Linked DNA regions of Homo sapiens. The protein of the gene in region 7 purifies or fractionates together with the protein of the main gene of each other region. This does not show direct contact. Each region holds a gene or a part of one and is shown on either strand. Other genes may lie near its edges.

What was found.
Region 1: the proteins of SLC45A3 (region 7) and WDR62 purify together in Homo sapiens (affinity purification with mass spectrometry; one large-scale study listed by BioGRID and IntAct). This does not show direct contact.
Region 2: the proteins of SLC45A3 (region 7) and DRG1 purify together in Homo sapiens (affinity purification with mass spectrometry; one large-scale study listed by BioGRID and IntAct). This does not show direct contact.
Region 3: the proteins of SLC45A3 (region 7) and SRSF4 purify together in Homo sapiens (affinity purification with mass spectrometry; one large-scale study listed by BioGRID and IntAct). This does not show direct contact.
Region 4: the proteins of SLC45A3 (region 7) and PRRC2C purify together in Homo sapiens (affinity purification with mass spectrometry; one large-scale study listed by BioGRID and IntAct). This does not show direct contact.
Region 5: the proteins of SLC45A3 (region 7) and RDX purify together in Homo sapiens (affinity purification with mass spectrometry; one large-scale study listed by BioGRID and IntAct). This does not show direct contact.
Region 6: the proteins of SLC45A3 (region 7) and DNAJC8 purify together in Homo sapiens (affinity purification with mass spectrometry; one large-scale study listed by BioGRID and IntAct). This does not show direct contact.

What each region holds. Positions count from the first base shown.
Region 1 is NC_000019.10:36,089,397-36,092,896, forward strand, and holds part of WDR62 (WD repeat-containing protein 62), read left to right. Parts: intron 1-1,048; coding exon 1,049-1,124; intron 1,125-1,803; coding exon 1,804-1,915; intron 1,916-2,005; coding exon 2,006-2,069; intron 2,070-3,292; coding exon 3,293-3,415; intron 3,416-3,500. UniProt on the Homo sapiens protein: Required for cerebral cortical development. Plays a role in neuronal proliferation and migration.
Region 2 is NC_000022.11:31,416,604-31,420,103, forward strand, and holds part of DRG1 (developmentally-regulated GTP-binding protein 1), read left to right. Parts: intron 1-3,500. UniProt on the Homo sapiens protein: Catalyzes the conversion of GTP to GDP through hydrolysis of the gamma-phosphate bond in GTP. Appears to have an intrinsic GTPase activity that is stimulated by ZC3H15/DFRP1 binding likely by increasing the affinity for the potassium ions.
Region 3 is NC_000001.11:29,147,243-29,150,900, reverse strand, and holds the end of SRSF4 (serine/arginine-rich splicing factor 4), read left to right. Parts: intron 1-708; coding exon 709-798; intron 799-1,674; coding exon 1,675-2,491; 3' UTR 2,492-3,158; downstream 3,159-3,658. UniProt on the Homo sapiens protein: Plays a role in alternative splice site selection during pre-mRNA splicing. Represses the splicing of MAPT/Tau exon 10.
Region 4 is NC_000001.11:171,530,530-171,534,029, forward strand, and holds part of PRRC2C (protein PRRC2C), read left to right. Parts: intron 1-1,813; coding exon 1,814-2,432; intron 2,433-3,500. UniProt on the Homo sapiens protein: Required for efficient formation of stress granules.
Region 5 is NC_000011.10:110,262,115-110,265,614, forward strand, and holds part of RDX (radixin), read right to left. Parts: intron 2,761-3,500; coding exon 2,665-2,760; intron 2,121-2,664; coding exon 1,846-2,120; intron 1-1,845. UniProt on the Homo sapiens protein: Probably plays a crucial role in the binding of the barbed end of actin filaments to the plasma membrane.
Region 6 is NC_000001.11:28,202,030-28,205,529, forward strand, and holds part of DNAJC8 (dnaJ homolog subfamily C member 8), read right to left. Parts: intron 3,321-3,500; coding exon 3,229-3,320; intron 1,794-3,228; coding exon 1,718-1,793; intron 1-1,717. UniProt on the Homo sapiens protein: Suppresses polyglutamine (polyQ) aggregation of ATXN3 in neuronal cells.
Region 7 is NC_000001.11:205,677,710-205,681,964, reverse strand, and holds the start of SLC45A3 (solute carrier family 45 member 3), read left to right. Parts: upstream 1-1,455; 5' UTR 1,456-1,571; exon of another isoform or gene 1,572-1,595; intron 1,596-4,255. UniProt on the Homo sapiens protein: Proton-associated sucrose transporter. May be able to transport also glucose and fructose.

The DNA.
Region 1 (3,500 bases), on a different chromosome or scaffold from region 7:
GCTGGGAAGGAATTGAGGGACCCAGCAGGTGTTCCTTCTTGGTTTTTTTTTGTTTTTGTTTTTGAGGCAGAGTCTTGCTCTGTTGCCCATGCTAGAGTGCAGTGGCACCATTTTAGCTCACTGCAACCTCCACCTCCTGGGTTCAAGTGATTCTCCTGCCTCAGCCTCCCAAGTAGCTGGAATTACAGGCGCCTGCCACCATGCCTAGCTAATTTTTTGTATTTTTAGTAGAGACGAGGTTTCGCCATGTTGGCCAGGCTGGTCTCGAACTCCTGACCTCAGGTGATATTGCCCACCTCAGCCTCCCAAAGTGCTGGGATTACAGGCGTGAGCCACCGTGCCCGGCCACCAGCAGGTATTTCTTAGAAGCTGGGCTCTCCCAAGCCTGGCCTCCAGGTCAGCAGAGGGCTTTCTTCTGGCTCTCCCTAGAGCCGGTGTGGGATGACTAAGGTGCTGATGTGGCACATAAACTCCCTCATTCACCCGTATTCCCTGAGCACCTAACTGGGCTGGATGGTGCTGGGATCATGGCAGTGGCCAGGATAGCCCCAGGCCCTCCTTCATGGAGCTCACAGTCCAGTAGAATGGACACGGCCACCTCACAGCCACAGACAGTGACAGAGTGGTCAGAGATGGGGGAGCCCAGGGGCCCTGTGGAGACACCTGACCCCACCTGCGGATCAAGCAGGACTTCCTGGAGGAAGAGACACCTTAGCCTGGGGAGGATGTGGAGGAGCGAGCCAGGGGGAGGCAGAGAGTGAGTGTGCAGAGGGCAAAGCAGTGCAAAGAGGCTCTGCACCCCTTCCCAGTTCTTTCTCATGCGGTGCCAAGCACTGAGCTTGCAGTGTGTGGGGGAGATGAACATTAACTCAGTGGATACCCCAGGACAACCTCAGCTTGAGATGGGGTTTCAGTTTCAGTCTAGGCATCAGATGGGGACAAGAGGTAGCAGGGGGCTTCCAGGGGAGGGGAGGACAGCAAGAGCCAGAGAATGAGGTGGTGGGGTAGGCGGGGCCCTGTTGGCCGCAACATGCCCCTACTTCCCCAGAGTCTACAACACTGTGAACGGGAAGCAGAAGAAGTGCTACAAGGGCTCCCAGGGTGACGAAGGGTCCTTGCTGAAGGTGAGGAGTTGGAGACCCCTGTCTGTCTGCTGCCCTGATGGGCCACCTATTGTGACGGCCCACACCTGAGACCTGTGCCCTTGGTCCTTCCTCAGTGCACCGCGCTGCCCAGCACCTTCTCAGGCCTGGTTAAACAAGGATGCTTGCGAGAGGGTGGGGAGGGTGACCCCAGCTGTGTTTCCTTTATTTACAGAGCCCTTCCCCAAGTGGGGCGTCTAAGTGGGTTCCATTTTGAGTGGCAGCAGGGTATGGTGGGAAGAATCAGAGGCATGAACTCCCCTCCTGGTTTGCCCACACCAGCCACGGGTCACTCAGGACAAGGGGGGACCTTCTCAGAGCCTCTGGTCTAGGACAGTTATGGGTTCAGGTTCTGCCTCAGGCTGACTGTGTGACCTTGGGCAAGCATCATCTCTTGAAATGCACACAGACAGCTTGTCTCATAGACTTGTTCTCTGGAGGAGTTCAGTTTGCACATGTTCAGTGCTTAGCACAGGGCCTGGCTACTGTTGTTACTGCTGCGGTGGTTGTTAATTTCTTCACGTGTCGAATGGGAGCGGGAGCTCCTGCCCTGCCAGAGTCCCATGTGCTGTGCATGCAGCACGGGGGAGGGAGGGGCCCAGGCCTCATCATAAGGAAGAAGCAGGCAGCTGGAGTGACATGTGGGTCCCTTTCCTGGCAGGTCCATGTGGACCCCTCAGGCACCTTCCTGGCCACCAGCTGCTCTGACAAAAGCATCTCAGTGATTGACTTTTACTCGGGCGAGTGCATTGCCAAGATGTTTGGCCATTCAGGTGGGTGTGCCTCTCTGCTTGGGATGCCTCCCCACCCGCCCACACCCTCTGACTCCGAAGGCAAGTGCAGCCTCTCTGCTTTGTTTGCAGAAATTATTACCAGCATGAAGTTCACCTATGACTGTCATCACTTGATCACAGTATCTGGAGACAGGTGGGACATGGACCTTTGGGAGAGTTGTGGCTCAGATACCATGAGCACTGCACTCAGCCTGCCTGTGTAGAGAGCATTTCTAAACTGCCCAGTTTGGATTGTGGGAGTCTTGGTGTCACACCCAGCCCTGAGTTCAAATACCAGCTCTAAGCTGGGCATGATGGCTCACGCCTGTAACCCCAGCACTTTGGGACGCTGAGGCGGGTGGATCACTTGAGCTCAGGAGTTCGAGACCAGCCTGGGCAACATAGCAAAACCCTATCTCTACAAAAAATTAGCCGGGTGTGGTCATGTACACCTCTAGTCCCAGCTACTCAGGAGGGGGAAGATGGCTTGAACCTGGTAGGTAGAGGTTGCAGGGAGCACAGATCATGCCAGTGCATTCCAGCCTTGGTGACAGAGCAAGACCCCGTCTCAAAAAAAAAACAAAACACTAAAAAAACATATCCCAGCTCTGCCATTTATTTTCTTGTCACCTTGAGCAGGTTATTTCCCCTGAGCCTCAGTTTGCTCCCCTGTAAAAGACACCACCGTTTACATTTACCTTAAAAATGGTGTGATGAGGCCGGGCGCAGTGGCTCACGCCTGTGATCCCAGCACTTTGGGAGGCCTAGGTGGATGGATCATCTGAGGTCAGGAGTTCAAGACCAGCCTGGTCAACATGGAGAAACTGTGTCTCTACTAAAAATACAAAAATTAGCTGTGCGTGGTGGCAGGCGCCTGTAGTCCCAGCTACTTGGGAGGCTGAGGCATGAGAATGACCTGAACCTGGGAGGTAGAAGTTGCAGTGAGCTGAGATCGCGTCACTGCACCCTAGCCTGGGTGACAGAGCAAGACTCTCTCAAAAAAAAAAAAAAAAGAAAATTGTATGGTGAGAAATGAATGAGATGATATACATACATTCTTTAGCACATGGGTGGTACTCAAGGAAGTCCCTTTTGTCACTCCCTTTGATTTACCCCAGTTCTTCCCCACAGCCCCCTTCCTCAGGTCTTGAGGCCTCCAGAACAGGCCCTGGTTTGCTGGGATGCCCCAGACCTGGGCCCAGGGTGTGGATGTGGCAAGTCCAGCACCCCTGCACTAAGCGGATAGGGGTGTGTTTTCCAGGAGCATCTGGAGAATGGGGTCCAGGCTGTGGTGTGGGTGGCTTCAGGGTCAGCCACGGCAGCGGCTCCCATGCTTACTCTTCCTCTGCCTTGTGTGTCTCTCTTTGACCTCCGCAGCTGCGTGTTCATCTGGCACCTGGGCCCGGAGATCACCAACTGCATGAAGCAGCACTTGCTGGAGATTGACCACCGGCAGCAGCAGCAGCACACAAATGACAAGAAGCGGAGTGGCCACCCCAGGTCCTGGCAGCCCCTGCCTGTCCACCAGAGGGATGAGTCCCTGCCAGGGCCCCATGGAGTGATGCTGGGGACACAGTGGTGGCCA
Region 2 (3,500 bases), on a different chromosome or scaffold from region 7:
AATTAGCCAGGCATGGTGGCAGGTACCTGTAATTCCATAGTCTGTAATTCCAGCACTTTGGGAGGCTGAAGCAGGTGCATCACAAGATGAAGAGATCGAGACCATCCTGGCCAACATGGTGAAACCGCGTGTCTATTAAAAATATAAAAATTAGCTGGGCATGGTGGCGTGTGCCTATAGTCCCAGCTACTCAGAAGGCTGAGGCAGGAGAATCGCTTGAATCCAGGCGGCAGAGGTTGTAGTGAGCGGAAATTGCACCATTGCACTCCACCCTGGTGACAGCAAGATTCTGTCTCAAAAAAAAAAAAAAAAATAGCTGGATGTGGTGGTATGCTTCTGTAGTCCCAGCTGTTCGGGAGGCTGAGGTAGGAGGTTCTCTTGAGCCCAGGAGGTCAATCTGCAGTGAGCCATGATCATGCCACTGCACTGCAGCCTGGGCAGCACACAGACACCCTGTCTCAAAAAAAAAAATAATAATAATAATAAGGCCGGGCATGGTGGCTCACACCTGTAATTCCAGCACTTTGGGAGGCCGAGGCGGGTGGATCACCAGGTCAGGAGATCGAGACCAACCTGGCCAAGGTGGTGAAACCCCGTCTCTGCTAAAAATACAAAAATTAGCTGGGTGTGGTGGTGCGCGCCTGTAGTCCCAAGCTGCTCGGGAGGCTGAGGCAGGAGAATCGCTTAAACCTGGGAGGCAGAGGTTGCAGTGAGCCGAGATTGCACCACTGCACTCCAGCCTGGCGACAGAGCAAGACTCTGTGTCAAAAAATAATAATAATAAAAATAAAATCATGGCTGCTTGGTGGCTCATGCCTGTAATTGCAGCACTCTGGGAGGCTGAGGGGGGTGGATCACTTGAGATCAGGAGTTTGAGACCAGTCTGGCTATCATGGTGAAACCCTGTCTGTACTAAAAATACAAAAAGTAGCTGGGCATGGTGATGCATGCCTGTAGTCCCAGCTACTTGGGAGGCTGAGGCAGGAGAATAGCTTGAACCCAGGAGGCGGAGGTTGCAGTGAGCCGAGATCACGCCATTGCACTCCAGCCTGCATGACAGAGCAAGACTCCATCTCAAAAAAATAAAATAAATAAAATAAAATCAGGCTGGGCATGGTGGTACATGCATGTAATCCCAGCACTTTAGGAGGCTGAGGCGAGCGGATCACCTGAGGTTGAAAGTTTGAGACCAGCCTGACTAACATGGAGAAACCCTGTCTCTATTAAAAATGCAAAATTAGCTAGGAGTGGTGGTCCATGCCTGTAATCCCAGCTACTTGGGAGGCTGAGTCAGGAGAATTGCTTGAACCCAGGAGGCAGAGGTTGTGAGCTGAGGTCGCACCAATGCACTCCAGCCTGGGCAACAAGAGTGAAACTCCATCTCAAAAAAAAAAAAAAAGTCTACCACTGAGGCTGGGCATGGTGGCTCACGCCTGTAATCCCAACACTTTGGGAGGCCGAGGTGGGCAGATCATGAGGTCAGGAGTTCAAGACCAGCCTGAACAACATGGTGAAATGCTGTCTCTACTGCATCTCAAAAAAAGAATGAGGGGTCAGGGTCAGGTGCAATGGCTCATACCTGTAATCCCAGCACTTTGGGAGGCTGAGGCAGGAGGATCACTTGAGGCCAGGAGTTCGAGACCAACCTGGGCAACATTGCAAGACCCTGTCTCTACAAAAATAAAAATTAAAAAAAAGAAAAAAATAGCCATGTGACATGGCACACATGTGTAGTCCCGGATATTCAAGGAGACTGAGGCAGGATGATCAGTTGAGCCCAGGAGGTGGAGGTTATAATGAGCTATGATCATGCGACTGCACTCCAGCCTGAGTGACAAAGCGAGACCCTGTCTCTTCAAAAAAGAGAATTTTAAAAAATGAGGAACTAGAAAGTTGATGGAAGCAGAATATTTTTTTTTTTCTGAGATGGCGCTCTGTTGCCCAGGCTGGCTGGAGTGCAGTGGCATGATCTCGGCTCACTGCAACCTCTGCCTCCCTGGTTCAAGTGATTCTCGTGCCTCAGCCTCCTGAGTAGCTGGGATTACAGGTGTCCACTACCATGGCCAGCTAATTATTTATTTATTTATTTATTTTTGTAGATGGATTCTCGCTCTGTTGCCCAGGCTGGAGTGCAGTGGCGCAATCTCAGCTCACTGCAATCTCTGCCTCCCGGGTTTAAGAGATTCTCCTGCCTCAGCCTCCCAAGTAGCTGGGACTACAGGCATGTGCCACCACATCCGGCTAATTTTTTGAATTTTTAGTAGAGATGGGGTTTTACCATGTTGGCCGGGATGGTCTCAATCAGCTCACCTTGTGATCCTCCTGCCTCAGCGTCCCGAACTGCTGGGATTACAGGCGTGAGCCACTGCGCCGGCCAGTTTTTCTATTTTTAGCAGAGACAGGGTTTCACCATGTTGACCAGGCTGGTCTCAAGCTCCTGACCTCAGGTGATCTTCTCGCTTCAGCCTCCCAAAGTGCTGGGATTATAGGTATGAGCTCCCGTGCCCAGCTGGAAGCAGGATTTTTGACAAATGAATTTTAATATAGAAAAAGGCCAGATACTGTGACTCATGCCTGCAGTCTCGGCAGTTTGGGAGACCAAGGCAGGAGGATTGCTTGAGGCCAGGAGTTAAAGGCTACAGTGAGCTATGATCATGCCACTGCACTCCAGTCTAGGCAATAGAGCGAGACTCTGTCTCTGTCAATATAAATATATATTAATAAAAATAAGATATGCAGGCACAAAAGACTACTTTTTTTTTTTTTTATACAGATTGAATCTTACTTTGTTGCACAGGCTGGTCTCAAACTCCTGGCTCCAAGCAATCCTTCTGCCTCAACCTCCCAAAGTGCTAGGATTACAGGCATGAGCCACTGTGCTAGGCCAAAATAATATATTTTATATGATTCCATTTATATGAAATTCTAAAACGTGCAAACTATGGTGGCAGAAAGCAGATCAGTGGTTGGCTGGCAATAGTGGGGAAGATTGAAAGGAGGCACAAAGGAATGCTGTAGGTGATGGAAATATTCCATGTCTTGATTGGTTTGGTGGTTACACAGGTATATACATTTGTTATTGAACTGTGTGCTTTAACATGGATACAATTAAAAAAAAATTGTACCTCAATAAATTTGGTTAAAAATTTGCTAACCAAGGGTGGGCGCAGTGGCTCATGCCTGTAATCCTAGCACTTTGGGAGGCTGAGGTGGGCGGATTGCCTGAGCTCAGGAGTTCGAGACCAGCCCAGGCAACATGGTGAGGAAACCTCGTCTCTACTAAAATACAATTAGCCAGGCATGGTGGCATGTGCCTGTAGTCCCAGCTACTGGGGTGGCTGAGGGAGGAGAATCGCTTGAACCCGGGAGGCAGAGGTTGCAGTAAGCCAAGATTGTGCCACTGCACTCCAGCCTGGGCAACAGAAAATGTGTCAACTCTTGGGCAAATAGGTGCTGATTTCATGGCATACAAAGCAAATTGACTTCTGGTATAAATCTTC
Region 3 (3,658 bases), about 180 Mb from region 7:
AATGGTGGCTTGCCCAGAGAGGCAGCAGCAGAGGTAGAAAGACCGAAGATCAGGAGGCATGATCGTGGGTGTGTAAGGGGATAGGGGAAAGACGGGGGAGTCAAGGATGGCTGTGATTTCTGTTACGAGGAACCATATGAATAACAGTGGCATCAGTGCACATAAGGAGCCCAGCAAAAGGAGCCGGCATCGGGGACAGTTAGAATTTCAGGAGCTGCTAAGAGGTTCAGGTGAACCATCCAGATGGAAGGTTTGCAGGTGACTTCATCTGTGGACCTAGAACCCAAGAGAGAGTTTGTGCCTGGACACAGCCAGTGCTGTACATATTGAAAATCTTGGCCGGGTACGGTGGCTCATGCCTGTAATCCTGGCATTTTGGGAAGTCGAGGCAGGTGGATCACCTGAGGTCAGGAGTTCGAAACCAGCCTGACCAACATGGAGAAACCCCGTCTCTACTAAAAATACAAAATTAGCCAGGCGTGGTAGCACATGCCTGTAATCCCAGATACTTGGGAGGCTGAGGCAGGAGAATCGCTTGAACTCAGGAGGTGGAGGTTGTGGTGAGCCGAGATCGCGCCATTGCACTCCAGCCTGGGCAACAAGAGTGAAACTCCATCTAAAATATATATATATAATATATATAGTCTTGATTGATGCTCATCAGCAGCCTCTTGTCAGCAAGTATTAAAAAATATTTTCTCCCCCTAGGTCTCGCTCTCGAAGCAGACATTCCCGTAAGAGCAGAAGCCGAAGTGGCAGCAGCAAAAGCAGTCATTCTAAGAGTAGATCTCGGTCCAGGTATGTCTTCCATGTTATAAGTAGAGGTGGTCAGCAGGGAATGCCTGTACCCTGTCTCACTTTTTTTTCTTTTTTTTTTCAAAGAGACACTCTGTCACCCAAGCTGGAGTCCAGTGGTACAGTCATGGCTCACTGCAGCCTCACCTCACTGGGCTCAAGCAAGCTTCCACCTCAGCCTCCCAAGTAGCTGGGACTACAGGCACATACTACCACACCCAGCTAATTTTTTAATTTTTTTTAGAGACAGGGTCTCACTATGTTGCCCAGGCTAATCTTAAACTCATGACCTCAAATAGTCCTCCCAGACTACTGCGATTACAGACATGAGCCACTGTGCCCAGCCTCACTTGGATTTCAATCATGTGACCAGTCTTCCTGCTTTTCCAGCTTCTTTTTCTTTTTTTTTTTTTTTTTCCCCCCTCAAGACAGAGTCTCGCTCTGTCGCCCAATCTGGAGTGCAGTGGCGCGATCTCGGCTCACTGCAACCTCTGCCTCACGGGTTCAAGCGATTCTCCTGCCTCAGCCTCCTGAGTAGCTCGGTTTACAGGCGTGTGCCAGCATGCCTGGCTAATTTTTGGTATTTTTAGTAGAGACGGGGCTTCACCATGTTGGCCAGGCTGGCTCTTGAACTCCTGACCTCGCGATCCGCCTGCCTTGGCCTCTCAAAGTGCTGGGATTATGGGCATGAGCCGCCGCACCTGGCCAGTTTTTCCAGCTTCTGATTGGCATTGTGAGGGTTCAGAAAACAATCCTCAGCCAGTGCCAGCCATGCTTTATATTGGGGGGTGTAACTCCACATGTATGCCCTTTGGTCTTTTTATCTCCTGATTAGCATGAAGTCACATGTGACACAAACAGTATCCCATGTCTCCTCAGGTCGGGCTCCCGCTCCCGGAGCAAGAGCCGGAGCCGGAGCCAGAGTCGGAGCCGGAGCAAGAAAGAGAAAAGCAGGAGCCCCAGCAAGGAAAAGAGCCGCAGCCGCAGCCATAGCGCTGGCAAGAGCCGCAGCAAGAGCAAAGACCAAGCTGAAGAGAAGATCCAAAACAATGACAATGTCGGGAAACCCAAGAGCCGGAGTCCTAGCAGGCATAAAAGTAAGAGCAAAAGTCGGAGCAGGAGTCAGGAGAGGAGAGTGGAGGAGGAGAAGCGAGGGAGTGTGAGCAGGGGCAGGAGCCAGGAGAAGAGCCTCCGCCAGAGTCGGAGCCGGAGCAGGAGCAAAGGGGGCAGCAGGAGCCGGAGCAGGAGCCGCAGCAAGAGCAAGGACAAGAGGAAGGGCAGGAAGAGAAGCAGAGAGGAGAGCCGCAGTCGCAGTCGCAGCCGCAGCAAGAGTGAGAGGAGCAGAAAGCGAGGCAGCAAGCGAGACAGCAAGGCGGGCAGCAGCAAGAAGAAGAAGAAGGAAGACACTGACCGCTCCCAGTCCAGATCTCCATCCCGCTCCGTGTCAAAGGAGCGGGAACATGCCAAGTCTGAATCCAGCCAGAGGGAAGGTCGAGGAGAGAGTGAGAATGCTGGCACCAATCAGGAGACCCGGTCCAGGTCGAGATCCAATTCCAAATCGAAACCAAACCTTCCATCAGAATCACGCTCCAGATCAAAGTCAGCTTCAAAAACCCGATCTCGGTCCAAGTCTAGATCCAGGTCTGCTTCCAGATCGCCCTCCCGATCTAGATCTAGGTCCCACTCAAGGTCCTAACTGGCTATGGCCACAGCTGGAACTACCCGAGAAGTCTTTTGTACATGTTTGGTAGCCGTAGCACAAGTGATTGGAGTAGAACATGTCACTGCTGTACATTTTTAACTCCCCTAATGGTGTGTCTATAATTGTTAAATCTAAGTGCTTCCTCTCAGTAAAGCCTCCTGGCACCAGGCCTTCCTGCTCGACTGAAAAAAATTTTCTCTTTGAAAATCCCCTTTTACTCATGGCCCACAGTAGAATATCCAAAACGCCTTGGCTTTCAGGCCTGGCCTTTCCTACAGGGAGCTCAGTAACCTGGACGGCTCTAAGGCTGGAATGACCACATAGGTAGGTATGGTGAGTTCAACCATTTTTGCTCTTGAATTGATGCCCTTCGATGTATGCCATTTAGTGAAAGTGCTAAGTCTTAAGTTTCCTACCACTTTGGTTTCATATTTTTGGACTTAACAAAGTTGTGAATAGCACAGTCGAGGAAAATTGATACCTGCAGTAACCCATAGGAAATAAACTGTAGAGTTCCATATTCTGGTATTGTGATTATATTGTTTTATATTAAAAAAGAAAAGAAAAGAATTTTTTTTAATTTTATTTTTCCCCGTCTTGCAAAGTATAGTGACCCCTGTTTCCATTAAATTTGAATAAAGACTATTTTTGCTTGACAAAATTTCATGGTGTTTGAATTGAAGTTGTACTTTCTGATATATCTTGATATGTCTTTTCTTAGCATAAAAAGTTCATGTGTAGGCCGGGCACGGTGGCTCACGCCCGTAATCCCAACAGTTTGTGAGGCTTAGGCAGACGGATCACAATGTCAGGAGTTCGAGACCAGCCTGACCAACATGGTGAAACCCCGTCTCTACTGAAAATACAAAAATTAGCCAGGCATGGTGGTACACGCCAGTAATCCCAGCTACTCAGGAGAATGAGGCAGGAGAATCGCTTGAACCCCGAGGGGTGGAGGTTACAGTGAGCTGAGATCACGCCACTGTACTCCAGCCTGGGCGACAGAGCGAGACTCCGTCTCAAAAAAAAAAAAAAAAAAAGTTCATGTGTAATGACTGTTTTGTTCCTTGGGATCACCCATCTTAGGGAACCAACACGTTCCTAAAGGATTTTTCTCACCAACAGAATAAAGGCAGGTTTCCGAGGAATTTATCATCCTTT
Region 4 (3,500 bases), about 34 Mb from region 7:
GCCACCGTGTCTAGCCTGGGCCGTATTTTTATTTTTTTTTTAATATCTTACAACTCAATAATACGTAGTTAAACAAAAAGACTTGAACATTTGTTTCTCAAAAGAAAATGTAAGAATGGCCAGTATGCACATGAAAAGATATTCAGTGTCTTTAGTTATTAGGGAAATACAAGTTAAAACCACTGAGATTTTACTGCACTGCCAGAATTAAAGACTGATGACACCATGTGTTGGCAAGGATGTATAGAGCAGCTGGCACCCTTATACATTGGAAAACCTTATAACCACTTTGGAAAACAGTTTGGCAGTTTCTTGTAAATGAAATATCTATTTACCATATGACACAGGATTTTCACTTGTAGCTGTTTATCCAACAGCCAGGAAAACATACATTTACACAAAGACTTACGCATGAATGTTCATAGCTGTTTTATTCATAGTTTAAAAACTGGAAGCAACCCACGTGTCTATCATACATGAAACAACGTGCCCACAATGGAATACTATCCAGCAGTAAAATGGAGCAAACTACTTATACATAAAATAACCTCAATGCCATTATACTTAGCAAAAGAAGCTAGCACAAAAGAGAATATAATTTTATACATGTATATAAAATTCTAGGACAAACAGAACTATACAAGGTTAGGGTTGGGGTGCTTGGGGCCACAGGGGGAGGCAGAGGAGTGATGGAAATGTTGTGTCTGCGTTGGAGCAGTGGTTACACAGGTGTATCATTTGTCCAAACTCATCAAACTATACACTTAAAATATGTGCAGCACAGCACATTTTATGTAAATTTTACTTTTATGAAGTGAGTTGTGTAAATTAGGCACTAATATATTTGGTTTTTCAGCTTATCTCTGAGCTGTGGATGAAGAAACTCAGCACAAGAGAGATGAAGTAATTTGCATATGATGGCACTATTAGTAAATGGTAGTCTGCATTCATTTAAAAAGATAGTCAAGTGTTTTCGTTGTGTCATTGTTTAATCTTTTTATAAGCATTCCAGCTGGGTTACATATGGCTCTTAAGATTTCTTCACCCTAGTAGCTTTTAAAATCAATATGTTAAAAACATTTTTTTAATTACTTTTATTGTTTTTGCATAGTTGCAAGCAGTGATTTTAAAACCTGTCATTGTTTTATAACACATTAATGAAAATTTAGTCATTGAAACTTGGATGTTTCAGATGATCCTCCGATTCTCCACTCCGGGTTCTAGATACGCTTTTCTGGATCTTTCAGTCTAAAGATAGAACTTTTCTTCACCCAGACTAATTTGTAGGAATTTCTTCTCCTTTGGGGTATCATTACAGCACTGACTCTGTCTTTTTCACTTTGCTTCTTTGGCTCTGTGCTTTTTACCTGTAGCTGTACCTTAATTTTCTCAGGGCTCACATGCCATCATTTTGGATATTTAATACCTTCATTTCTCTCCCTTAGACATTCCAACTCTGGCAGCTGCTTCTAAAGTATCCATGCTAAATTTCCTTTGTCTCTAAATTTAGATTTTGAGATTCACTGTTGTGCTTCTAGTTTTATTCAGCAAATACTGAATGAGCAACAACGTCTGGCACAATAATAGGTACATACTCAGTAAACATTGGACCGCTGGATTAATTATTCTGGTCTTAGTTTGGTGAATTATCTAGATGTAATATATTTCCCATCTTATGTGTTTTCATTTTAATGTGTATGTTCATCAGAGAAATTTCTGATATTTTTGTGGGGTTTTTCCTTCTCCATGCCTGATACCCAGTGTTAGTCAGAAATAGAGTTGTCATAACTCATCTGATACCTTAATGTTTCAGCATCCACCTCCAGATCGACAGGCAGTACCTGGAAGACCAGGCCCCTTTCCCTCCAAGCAGCAAGTAGCTGATGAAGATGAAATATGGAAGCAAAGACGAAGACAACAATCAGAAATTTCTGCAGCAGTAGAACGTGCTCGTAAACGGCGTGAAGAGGAAGAGCGAAGAATGGAAGAACAAAGGAAGGCAGCTTGTGCGGAGAAACTGAAACGATTGGATGAGAAGCTTGGCATCCTGGAAAAACAACCATCTCCAGAGGAAATTAGGGAAAGGGAGCGAGAAAAAGAACGGGAGCGTGAGAAAGAACTTGAAAAAGAACAAGAACAGGAGCGAGAGAAGGAGAGGGAAAAAGACAGAGAGAGACAGCAGGAAAAGGAGAAAGAGCTGGAGAAGGAGCAGGAAAAACAAAGAGAAATGGAGAAAGAAAGAAAGCAAGAAAAAGAAAAAGAACTAGAACGGCAGAAAGAAAAGGAAAAAGAACTACAAAAGATGAAAGAACAAGAAAAGGAATGTGAGCTGGAGAAGGAAAGGGAAAAATTAGAGGAGAAAATTGAACCCAGAGAACCTAATTTAGAGCCCATGGTAGAAAAACAAGAAAGTGAAAACAGCTGTAATAAAGGTTTGATAGTATTCTTCATTCTCTTTTAAAAACTTTACAAAGAGCTTTATGTTGGTTACAGTTTGGGGTTTGTATATTTTAAATATATGTAATCAATATAAAAGTGATTGTTTTATGATAGCATTTGCAGTACAAAATATGGGCTAGAGCCGTGTTTTCTAATTCTGTATATGAACAGACGTCTCTGAAGTGTTTCTCAGTTATTAGATGAGCTTCATTTCTGTTTTATCTGCAGAATTGTATTGGCTTCATAGTCACATATACTGATTCTCCCCCTGCTTTTTTCTGACTCCAAGACATTTAACTAAACAAAATCTCATTTGTTCACATGCATTAATACCTCTAAAACTGAACTGGCATAGAGCTTAATGAGTATGTTGGATTATCATAATTAAATGACTGCACCTAGTTCATAATTTCAGGTTTGCTGTTTAATCAGTTTAAACATGCAAGCTTCCATGGTGTAGTTGATATGCTATTAAACTGTAATTTCCTGGAGTAATTATACTTTAAAATAAAATTCTTTTTCTAGATCTAATCAACTTTTTTGTTCTTCTCCGAGTTGGCTTGTAGACTGATTAATGGCATTCAAATATAGTATAAAGCCTTGGCAAAGTTAAAGTTCAGGGTTTTCGTTTTTTGTTTGTTGTTGTTGTGGTGGTGGTGGTTGTTGTTGTTTTTGAGACAGAGTCTCTCTCTGTCTCCAGGCTGGAGTGCAGTGGCGGAATCTCAGCTCACTGCAAACTCCACCTCCCAGGTTCAAGTGATTCTCCTGCCCCAGCCTCCCAAGTAGCTGGGGCTACAGGCGCGTGCCACCGCACCCAGCTAATTTTTGTATTTTTAGTAGAGACGGGGTTTCACTATGTTGGCTAGCATAGCCTCAATCTCTTGACCTCGTGATCTGCCTGCCTCGGCCTCCCAAAGTACTGGGATTGTAGACGTGAGCCACCGCGCCCAGCCTAAAGTTTAGTTTTAATGAACGACTTGAATTAAAATAGAAATGCAGTTTTATTTCAGTGTATTTTCTGATGTGGAAATATTGTAAGTTTTCTAACCTGACGTCTCATG
Region 5 (3,500 bases), on a different chromosome or scaffold from region 7:
CAGTAATCTAAGATGAAGAATCTTAGGTTAGAATAACATTCAAAACCAGAATATAAACAGACTATCAGATATCTCATATTCCTGACTCTCTTGGTGAACAACTTACATAATTCTATCCTTTTCCAAGGTGACTACTATTGCTACAAAATTAAAGGGCGGAACACTGTGACATTTAATAATTGAATTTTGGCTGAGCATGGTGACTCACGCCTATAATCCCAGCACTTTGGGAGGCCGAAGCGGGTGGATCATTTGAGATCAGGAGTTCGAGACCAGCCTGACCAACACGGTGAAACTCCATCTCCACTAAAAATGCAAAAATTAGCCAGGTGTGGTTGTGTGTGCCTGTAATCCCAGCTGCTCAGGAGGAGACTGAGGCAGGAGAATCGCTTGAATCCGGGAGGCGGAGGTTGCAGTGAGCCGAGATCGTGCCACTGCACTCCAGCCTGGGCAACAGAGCAAGACTCCATCTCAAAGAAAAAAAAAAAAAATTAAAAAGTAATATTTGATGTTCCATCTTCTAGATTCCATCAATACTACTAAATAACACGTTTCACACTTGACAATTAAAACTGTAAATCATATAGTTCATTAATTATAATCATAAACTAGAAGGTAGCCAGAGAAGGATTATTATCCCCACTTTGCAGATTTAGATACTGAGCTCAGAGGTTTTAGGTCATGTACCTAAGGTCACATATATAGCAAAGGGTGGAATCGGTACTCAAAATTTAGGTCTTCTGATAATTTTTTCCTATGCCATATTATTTTAAAATAGCCATTATAGAAGCAGCAGTACACTGTAGATAAGAACAATGCACCAGCCTAGGAGTCTGAAAACCTAGTTTAAAAAGCCTTTTCAGAAAGTCAGAAAATTCAGCCAGGAGCAGTGGCTCACGCCTGTAATCCCAGCACTTTGGGAGACCGAGGTGGGAGGATCACTTGAGGTCAGGAGTTCGAGACCAGCCTGGCCAACATAGTGATACCCTGTCTCTGCTAAAAATACAAAAATTAGCTGGGCATGGCGGCAGATGCCTGTAATCCCAGCTACTCGGGAGGCTGAGGCAGGAGAATCACTTGAACCTGAGAGGCAGACTCCAATCTCAGCGAGCTGAGATTGCACCACTGCACTCCAGCCTGGGTGACAGAGTGAGGCTCTATCTCGGGGGGGGAAAAAGTCAGAGAATTCTATGAAGAAAACACAGCCTGCCACTTACTCTCACTTATTAAGCACCTGCCTGTGTTAGAATTTGTACCAAGCAGCAACAGTCACATCCTTTCCTCAAGTCCAAATTATCACTGCCTCCATTTATTGCTTACCCTATGGGAATGAGGAAAGAAGAGATAGATCAACCTTAGGTAATTACAGAGCATATAAATCTATGGAGGTGCTAGGTAATGATTTTTAGAAGTATACCCCATGATCCAGCTGGCAACTTAAAATCTGGAAAAAAAAAAAAAAGAGGCCAGGTGCGGTGGCTCATGCCTGTAATCCCAGCACTTTGGGAGGCTGAGGCGGGCAGATCACTTGAGCTCAGGAGTTTGAGACCAGCCTGGGCAACATGATGAAACCCCATCTCAATGAAAAATACATTAAAAAAAAAATTAGCGGACATAATGGCATGTGCCTATAGACCCAGCTACTCAGGAGGCTGAGGTGGAAGGATGGCTTGAACCCAGGAGGCAGAGGTTGCAGTGGGCTGAGATCACGCCACTGCACTCCAGCATGGGTGACAGGTCCAGACCCTGTCTCCAAAAAAAAAAAAAAACCTGAAAAACGTTTTATTTATAGACTTCTAGAATACAATTTTCAGACAATATAATGCAAACGCATGTTTCACTTACCGCTGGGGTAGGAGTCTATCATTAGCCAGGTAGCCTGGCTTATGAATCTCTTTATTGTAATCTCCATACTTGGCTTGGACAGCATAGGAAGCCAAAAGAACTGCAGTTTCTGGCGGGCAATATATCTCATCATTTAAGATGGCTTCTTTAACTTGCAAGAAGAAGAGTCTCTGGGTTATTTCTTGAATTAATTCCTCAGAAACATCTTCAGGAAAGAATTTAGCTCTAAACTTGAACTGTAAAGGATTCTCTTTTTTAACATCCTGCTGTGTTACCTGGAAAAATAATTTCAAGTATAATCAACAAAAATCTTAAGTTTACAATAATTAGACCTAGTCACATCAAATTCTTTTTGGAAGAAAATGAAGTGAAATAGATTCTAAATCTATGAAGATTTTAGTGTGTAATAGTCTAAATCTGTAAACAAATATATGTGGTAAAAGATTCTATGCTCTTGAATGTGACCTATAACTCAGATTCTAATAACCAAATTGAAAACTTTTTTTCATATTCTTGAGAAGCTTATCCTACAGGTATTTACATCAAAATTGAAGTACTTAGTATGCCATTTGTAATATCTGCTTTAATATTTGTTATAGGCTAAGTTTTCAAATAGGAAAAGTAAGCATTTCTTTTTTTTTTTTTTGAGATGATAAGCTGATGGTGCCTGATTGAATTTAAAAAAACATGGTACCTCATAATGATTAACAGATAACTACAAAAGGAAGCTTGCAATCAGTCAGACTTAGCTTTTCCAGCACAAATTCATAACTTCAACTTAACATAATTATTAGTTTAATGTTATCGTACATATTTTACCTTTTTATTTAGTTTAAGCCATGTAGAATAACCTTTGCTGTCTACATACTGCAGCCCAAAAAACCAGACCTCACGCAAACCAACTGTTTTCACCACCTAAAACACAACAACAACAAAAAAACACAATTTCAGTCCAACATACACATTGTGTCTAGATGATACTACACTTCAAAAGGAGAACAAAACTATGTAAGTATACGTATATTCCTTTGCCATAGAAAAGGCTTTCCCTAAATTTAAGATATTAAAGGAACATTTTTGAAAACTCAAATTCAAGTTTTCTATACTCAATTTTTCTTTTTTTTTTTTTGAAAAGAAGTTTTTTTTTTTGTTTTTTTTTTTTTTGTTCTTGTCACCCAGGCTGGGGTGCAATGGCACAATCTTGGCTCACCGCAACTTCCGTCTCCATTCAAGTGATTCTCCTGCCTCAGCCTCCAAAGTAGCTGTGATTACAGGTATGCACTACCACGCCTAGCTAATTTTTTGTATTTTTAGTAGAGATGGGGTTTCACCATGTTGGCCAGGTTGGTCTCAAACTCCTGACCTCAGGTGATCTGCCTGCCTCGGCCTTCCAAAGTCTTGGGATTATAGGCGTAAGCCACTGCACCTGGCCTCTAATCCTCAATTTTGTAGTGTCACTTCAATCCTCTTACTTGATCCACTTTTTCATACCTCCTTTTCCTTATCTATCATGACCTCAACAATAACAAGAGTCTTGAAAATATATATATATATATATATAGTTTTCATAATCATACGTTCCAATTTCTATTTACCCCCACAAGTACCCTATTGGTATATTTAGGGCAAATGGTATCATTTTGGTGATAAGAAAA
Region 6 (3,500 bases), about 180 Mb from region 7:
CAGTGAGCCAAGATCACGCCATCGCACTCCAGCCTGAGCAACAAGGGCAAAACTCCGTCTCAAAAAAAAAGTAGAATAGAGCTTTCTTCCCACTCCCAAGGGCCCAAGAAAGTGTCATAGCACCCCTAGAACGCAGGATGAGCTGCAGGTTGCAAGAGGAGGACGAAATCAGTAATAATCATCACAACACTGAGGCCCCATTTGTTGGGGACCTCGAGGCTAGACGTTTAACATGGTTTTTTTTGTTGTCATTGTTGTTGTCTTTTGTGAGATGCAGTCTCGCTCTGTTGCCCAGGCTGGAGTGCAGTGGTGCGATCTCGGCTCACTACAACCTCTGCCTCCCGGGTTCACATCATTCTCCTGCCTCAGCCTCCTGAATAGCTGGGACTAAAGGGGCCCGCCACCACGCCCGGCTAATTTTTTGTATTTTTAGTAGAGACGGGGTTTCACCGTGTTAGCCAGGATGGTTTCGATCTCCTGACCTCATGATCCGCCTGCCGTGGCCTCCCAAAGTGCTGGGATTACAGGCATGAGCCACCTCACCCGGCCTTTTTTTTTCTTTTTTTTTTTTTTTTTGAGACGGCTCTGTCACCCAGGCTGGAGTGCAGTGGCACAATCTTGGCTCACTGCAAGCTCCACCTCCTGGGTTCACACCGTTCTCCTGCCTCAGCCTCCTGAGTAGCTGAGACTACAGGTGCCAGCCACCACACCTGGCTAATTTTTTGTATTTTTTTAGTAGAGACAGGGTTTCACCATGTTAGCCAGGATGGTCTCAATCTCCTGACCTCATGATCTGCCCGCCTTGGCCTCCCAAAGTGCTGGGATTACAGGCTTGAGCCACCACGCCCGGCCAGCATATGGTATTTCTAATTGTCACCAAAAGCCGACTATGGTGTGTACTGCTACCAGTGCTTCACAAATAACACTGAGGCTCAAAAAGGTTAAATGATTTTCTAAAAGCCATACAGCTAGCTAGCAGTACAGCTACTCTTTCCACTGCACCTTTCTGCTGCCCCCCAAAACTTGGATGGCTGCTCCAAAGCCAGTACAATGCCTAGCGAGTTGTGTAGGGGTGGCCACTAGGACCTCTACCTCATTATCATTTTTTCTCTTTCCATACATGAAGTGCAACAGAAACAAAGTCATCAACTCTGATTAGCCAGCCCCTAACCATGAGTCCTAAACCCTATAGAAGAAAAGACCGAATGTTGCCACAATCCTTCTGTCCAACCACCTGAAGCATATAACCAGGGTGTCAAAGAAGAGTCAAGTTCAAAGGTTCTAACTCTCTCTGCAGGTAGGACACTGTGGGCACAAGAACTTCAGCATCTACTAACAGATCTCTAAGCAGCACAATACTCTATGCTTACCCCCTAAATTAAAAGTGCAATCCATTTTTCTTGAGCCCACTGGGCAGCTGTGCCTACTACAATCTAAAAAACCATTCAGGGTGAAACTGTTAGTGTGCTGTAAAAAGAAATTAAACAATAATTTTTAAAAATAAATTTTAAAAAAGCCATTCAGGGATCCTCATCGTCCTTGCCAAGGCTACAGAGCTTACAGGAGGCTGAGGCAGGCCCAGCCTCATTCTTCACCTCTCCCACTCTTCCCCACATATCCCACTCCCCTCTGACTGCCCCACTCAGTCCTGGGAGCGCCACAGGAACCAAGCTGCCTTATTCTGGAATTAGAATCCCTGGCCACCTTGGAAATTTACCTCAAAGTTTTTCTGCCACTCTCTTTCCCGTTTGGCTTTTTCTTGAGCTTCAATCTCTTCTTCCCTTTGTCGTTTCCTAGGAGGAAAACCAGATCATAGTATTTATATGATACTTACAGACTGAATTAACCATACAAGGTGGCATCTCCCCACAGAAGCAAGCATATATAGTAAATCAATTCCCTAGAAGTCTACAAAGATGGCTGTCTGGAAAGGGCTCATAGCATTTTCATGAATGTCTCATTCTAAAACACGCAGATCAGACTTGGGCATGGCTGTGGGGAAAGACATAAATATCCTTGTTACACAGATAAAGTAACTAAAGCCCAGCCAAGAGCAATCTGAGGTTTTGGGCTCTTTCAGTGACAAAGCTATGTCGAGAACACAGGCCACCTTATTTCAGCAGAATGACCATTATAAAGCCAAAGTTCTTAAGATCTCTGGACAAAACCCTATCCGAAAACAAAGATATTTCACACAACCTCAACTAGCAAATTTTAGTTACTGGTACCTACCAAGCAACAATATAAAATACATACAGAAACAAAACTCGGCCGGATGTAGCGGCTCATGCCTGTAACGCCAGCACTTTGGGAGGCTGGGGCAGGTGGATCATGTGAGGTCAGGAGTTCGAGACCAGCCTGACCAACATGGTGAAACCCCGTCTCTACTAAAAATGCAAAAATTAGCCAGGCAGGAGAATCACCTGAACCTGGGGAGGTGGAGGTTGCAGTGAGCCAAGATCATGCCATTGCACTCCAGCCTGGGCAACAAAAGCGAAATTCTAACATTTCTGATGTTCAAGAGAAATCATATTTTAGAACATTAAACATTTTGTTACTGATGACACTACAGTACTATACACTCACCAAAGCTGTAGCCACTAGCCCCACAAAAGGTTCTGGCTTCAGTAACAATGGCCTTAATAACTGCTTATTTCACTCCAGGACATCAGGAAGAACACACACAAGGCTCTTGATTATAAATAAACTCCCTGGCAGCATGCAGTGGCTCATGCCTGTAATCCTAACACTTTGGGAGGGCAAGGCAGGCAGATCACGAGGTCAGGAGATCGAGACCATCCTGGCCAACATGGTGAAACCCTGTCTCTACTAAAATACAAAAAATTAGCCGGGCATGGTGGTGTACACCTGTAGTCCCAGCTACTCAGGAGGCTGAGGCAGGGGAACTGCTAGAACCTGGGAGGTGGAGGTTGCAGTGAGCCAAGATCGCACCACTGCATTCCAGCCTGGCTACAGAGCAAGACTGTGTCTCAAAAAAATAAATAAAAAATACACTCCCTAAGGACAGACCTATTCAATAATTCTCAAAAGTCAAAGAAAAAAACTACTTACCCTGGTGATTCAAAAGCTTGACTGTTTTTAGGTAACTATTTTTATAGTCTCTTAAATGGTATACTATATAATTCCCTCATTAGGAAAATCACCAAAGACCAATGTTAGTTAATCTAGGTATTTAAATATGGTTTAAATGAATATACTGATATGTACCTTTCATGCATCTCTTTGGCTTCTCTCTCTTTCCTTTTAATTTCCAGCTCTGCAAAGAGTTTCATTGTCTGTTTATATACAGCTTGTTTGAACTACAGGAAAATCAAGAACAAAAGAAAATCAGAGTAAATATTTTTACCAGCAACTTGAACCATGTACTTTCACCTGGAGTCCAAGATAAAGCAGATTAAAACCTGGCACAGGCTGTGCACCGTGGCTCACATCTGTAATTCCAACACTTTGGAAGGCCAAAGGCAGGAGAATCGTTTGAG
Region 7 (4,255 bases):
GCTCTCCTTCCTCATCCCCCTGTCATAAGGCATAAAGCACAAGGGCCCCTGGAAAGAAGTGGTGGGAGGCAGGAGGAAGAGGGGGGCTCTTACTTGTCTGTGGTGCGACAACTCTCTCATGTTCCCAGTGTTCTTTCCCAAGCCTGCAAAATACCACCGTCCACTCTCTCCTGGCTCTGTAATTTTCCAGCTGACCTGAAATTTCCCCTGACTCCTGACCTCTTTCCTGGAGGAGAGGGGACACCAGCTCAGAGACCCTGGACTCCACCCTAGTCTCTCTGCTTGCCACGAGAGGGTATGCCAAAGACTTTGGAAAGCCATCTCCAGGAGGGTCCCCAGGTAGAGGTGTGTCTGCTCCAGGGAGGCAACGCTGAGACAGTTTTCAAGTTAAACTTGTTTAGTGACTCAGAAGGTAGATTCTTGATTTTTCTCTTCTCAACTCTCTCTGGCACCTGCTCTCTGTTCCCCACTACCACCAGGGCGCCACTATTTCCTCTCCCTTCTCTATCTCCCTTTCTTCTCTGCCTCCTTCTACCTCTCAGCTGGAAGGTGCCCTTAGAAATCATTTGGCTCACCCCCTCTTACAGAGGCCCAGAACATGGAAGGGACTTGGCCCACGTTATACGGCTGTTGACACAGGGCCAGCATTGGAACCCAGTGCCCCAGTGCCTGGTTGGCTAAGGCCAACCAGGTCTTCCCCTTCGAAGGCATCTTCCTGGGACTTTGTAGTATTCAAGTCAACAATCCAACTAAATTGGATTTCTCTCCACCCAATAAAACTCCATGGAGGAAAAAAAGACAAAACTGCCCCCCAACCCCCAACCCCAGGGCCAGCCTGGGACTCCATCAAAGACATTCTGGAACAGGTATCTGTTCGGACCTTGCTCAACAGCTGACAAAGAGAACATTTCATTGGCAATTTATCATCCATTCTTCCCCGTACACACTCTTAAGAAGAAAAAAAATTGGAATTTGGTTTTCAGCGCAGAAAGAGGGATTGAGTTAGCTCTGTCTGCGTCGGAGAATAGCAAAGAGCAGAAGGGTAATTCGGAGAGAATGTGACATCTCCTTTGAAGGGATGGTCCTGGACAGGTAGGGAGCAGCTCTGCCTGGAGATCGGGTGGCCAGAATGGCACGCCTGGGTAATGGTCGCAGCAGACTGGCTCCGAGTAGGGGAGGGGAGGTGCCCCGCGAAGCCGGGTAGCTTTCACCTAAATGTTTGGTGGCGAGCGACAGAGGGGGCGGTGCCCTGCCCTAGGTAATGATAGGGCAGTCTGGGAGCCACGCGGGGGCTGCCCGTCGCGGCGCGGCTACAAAGCCAGCTTCGAGACCTCCCGCTTTCTTCCCCTGGGTACCAGCCCCACCCCTCTATCCCCCCTCGCAGCACCCCCCACCTCCGTCCCGCCTCGCCCCGCCCCCCTCCTGGCAGTCCCAGCGCGCATGCTCTCTCCCCCCGCGGAGTAACCTGGAGATTTAAAAGCCGCCGGCTGGCGCGCGTGGGGGGCAAGGAAGGGGGGGCGGAACCAGCCTGCACGCGCTGGCTCCGGGTGACAGCCGCGCGCCTCGGCCAGGTAGGAGCGCGCCCCCTCCTCTCCCAGGGGTGAGGGTCCCGGCGCGGGAAAGGGAGCAGCAGTGCACGGCCGAGCTCCGCGCTGTCGCGTGTTTTGCGCCCCGCGGGATGGGGCTGCGCCGTGGCCGTCCGGGGCGCTGCGCGCCGAGCCCCGCGCGAATCCCAGAGGAGGGCGCGTCCCACACGCTCTGCCGGGGCGGGTGCCGAGTGCCCGGCGCCTGCACGGGTCCCCGCTGAGCTGTGCTTTCTTCCGCGGAGGGCGGGCAGGCAGGAGGTGCCCGCGCTGTCCCAGGCGGGGCGGCGGTGTGGGCGGGGAGCGGCCCCTCCCCGGAGCCCCGGGCCGGGCCGGACCGGGCCGGGCCGACGGCTGGCGGACCGGCCGCTGGCTCCTGTTGCAGCCTCCCGTGTCAGACTTTTCTTTGGAAAGTTGCGTTTATTTTCTTCTCTTGTCTGGGCTTCACCGGAAAGGGGCAGGATGAGTCACTGCGGCGCGCACAGTCCGGGACTTGGGGGAGCCGGGACGGGAGCCGACGGCCGCGGCGCCGCGGGGTGCTCAGGCCCAGGCCGGCTTTCTTGAGGAAGAGTGAGTTATTAAGACAGGGAAAGGGGACTGAGCCCTCTTGGACTTAGAACTGGGGCGAGCTCTGGGTACAGAGTTGGGACTGGACCGTGTGTGTGTGTGTGTGTGTGTGTGTGTGTGTGTGTGTGTTACTGTGTCCCCTTTTCAGCCTCAGTTTCCCCCTCTGTGGGGAGAGAAAGGCCGCTGTTTTCTCCTCGCCTCCCAGGTCTCAGGTGGGGAAGGACAGAGTTCTGCAAACGGCAAACAGGTGTGATGTGGTGGTACCTAGGCATCCCGTGCAGCTTCTCAGAGCTCTGGGCCTAGGCAGGCTTGCTAGAAAAGCCCCAGGGACCTGCATGCTTTCTCCCTAGTGCGGGTCAGGCCTTCCTGTAGTCTTCCGCTCCCCCCAGGCACTGCAGTCCTGTGAGTTGCTCTTGCCCTTGACCTCTGAATCAGCCTCCATCTTCCTGACAGACACTCTTGACCTGCTCAGCTTTTCCCCACTCCAGGGCGTGTTCCCTATGCTTCCTCTTTTTCCAAGGGGCCAGAGTTGGGGGTAGGGAGGGGTTTGGCATGGTGGGTACCTGGTGAGGACTCGCCCTTCAGCTGTTACACAGACCCGGTCCCGGTGGAGCAGGGACTAAGAATAGCCCAGCTGCTGTCTTGCTGCCCTGGAGTCTGCAGCCGGGCATTGCCAGTTGACCAGGGCCCGCAGTGACCCTTGCTGGGGTCCTGGAACCTTTGCTCAGGGGTGGGGTTGAGGTCCTAGGGGCTTCGGACTACCTTTCCTGAGGCACTTAGCAGATCTCCTTTCAGAGCAGAGACCGCCTTGGTGTAGACTCACCTGCCCGAGGCCTGGGAAACAGGCTGGCCTATTGGGGTGGGAGTGGGAGGGCCCAGGAGGCCCAGGCTAGACGGGAAGCCTGAGGAAACCCATAGAGCAGCATATTGTAGGGGATAAGTGGGACGCAATTTGAGGTCGCAGGCCATTCTGTTGGATCAGTCCCATTCCCTCATTCCTCCCTTATCTCCTCCCACCAGGCCTGTCGTGGAGCCAGGACTCTGTTGTTCTGAAAGTGCTCAGAAAATGCAGCTTGAGTCAGCAGAATGAGTTTGAAGATAAAAATACAGCTGTGGATGAATGTACAGCTGTGGACAGACAGGCCCCAATTTAGTGGGTGTGTGTTAGGGGGAGTTTTCCTATGTATTCATGGAGTGTGTGGTGAACTTCCCCATCCCTCCTGGCTCCCTGAATAACGTTGAAGGAGGAGGAGGAGTAGACAGTGATCCCTGGTGGTCTCCTGAGCCCATTCCAGGCCACTGGGTGGTGGAGGGATAGTGGAGGCCTCTCTCCAGCTCTCCCCTTACCCAGACTGGAGCTCTCAGCCTGGGCAGGGCTGGTCTGAAGATTCAAAGTAAAGTTAACTTGAAGACTTTAAGTACTATCATCTGGACGTCACAGCCTGATAAGTCAACATGGATAAAAACCCAGACTGTCAGAAAGATAGTTTCTTTTTTTAGACGAAGTTTCACTCTTGTTGCCCAGGCTGGAGTGCAATGTCACGATCTCAGCTCACTGCAGCCTCCGCCTCCTGGGTTCAAGTGATTCTCCTCCCTCAGCCTCCCAAGTAGCTGGGATTACAGGCACCCACCACCATGCCTGGCTAATTTTTGTATTTTTAGTAGATACAGGGTTTTACCATGTTGGCCAGGCTTGTCTTGAACTCCTGACCTCAGGTGATCCACCCGCCTCAGCCTCCCAAAGTGCTGGGATTACAGGTGTGAGCCACCGCACCCGGCCAGAAAGAAAGTTTCTATATTGGCTGCTTCACTAGGTGAGCTCCACCAGCTTGGCAAGTTACATAACCTCGTCCAAGCCTCAGTATCCCTGGCTGCAAAATGGGAATGATAATACTTACTGTATAGCTTTGTTAAGTAGATTATAACAGACATAAAATTTATAAACATATAATTACGTTATATATAGTCTAAAAATTATAGCTTTATTAAATATTGTATATAGAATACTAAACTGTGTGTCTGACACATAAGTGCTCAATAAATGTTAGTACCAACTATATATTGTATCGATCATTTGGGACTGAATGGACAGCAGTGCCTAGCCT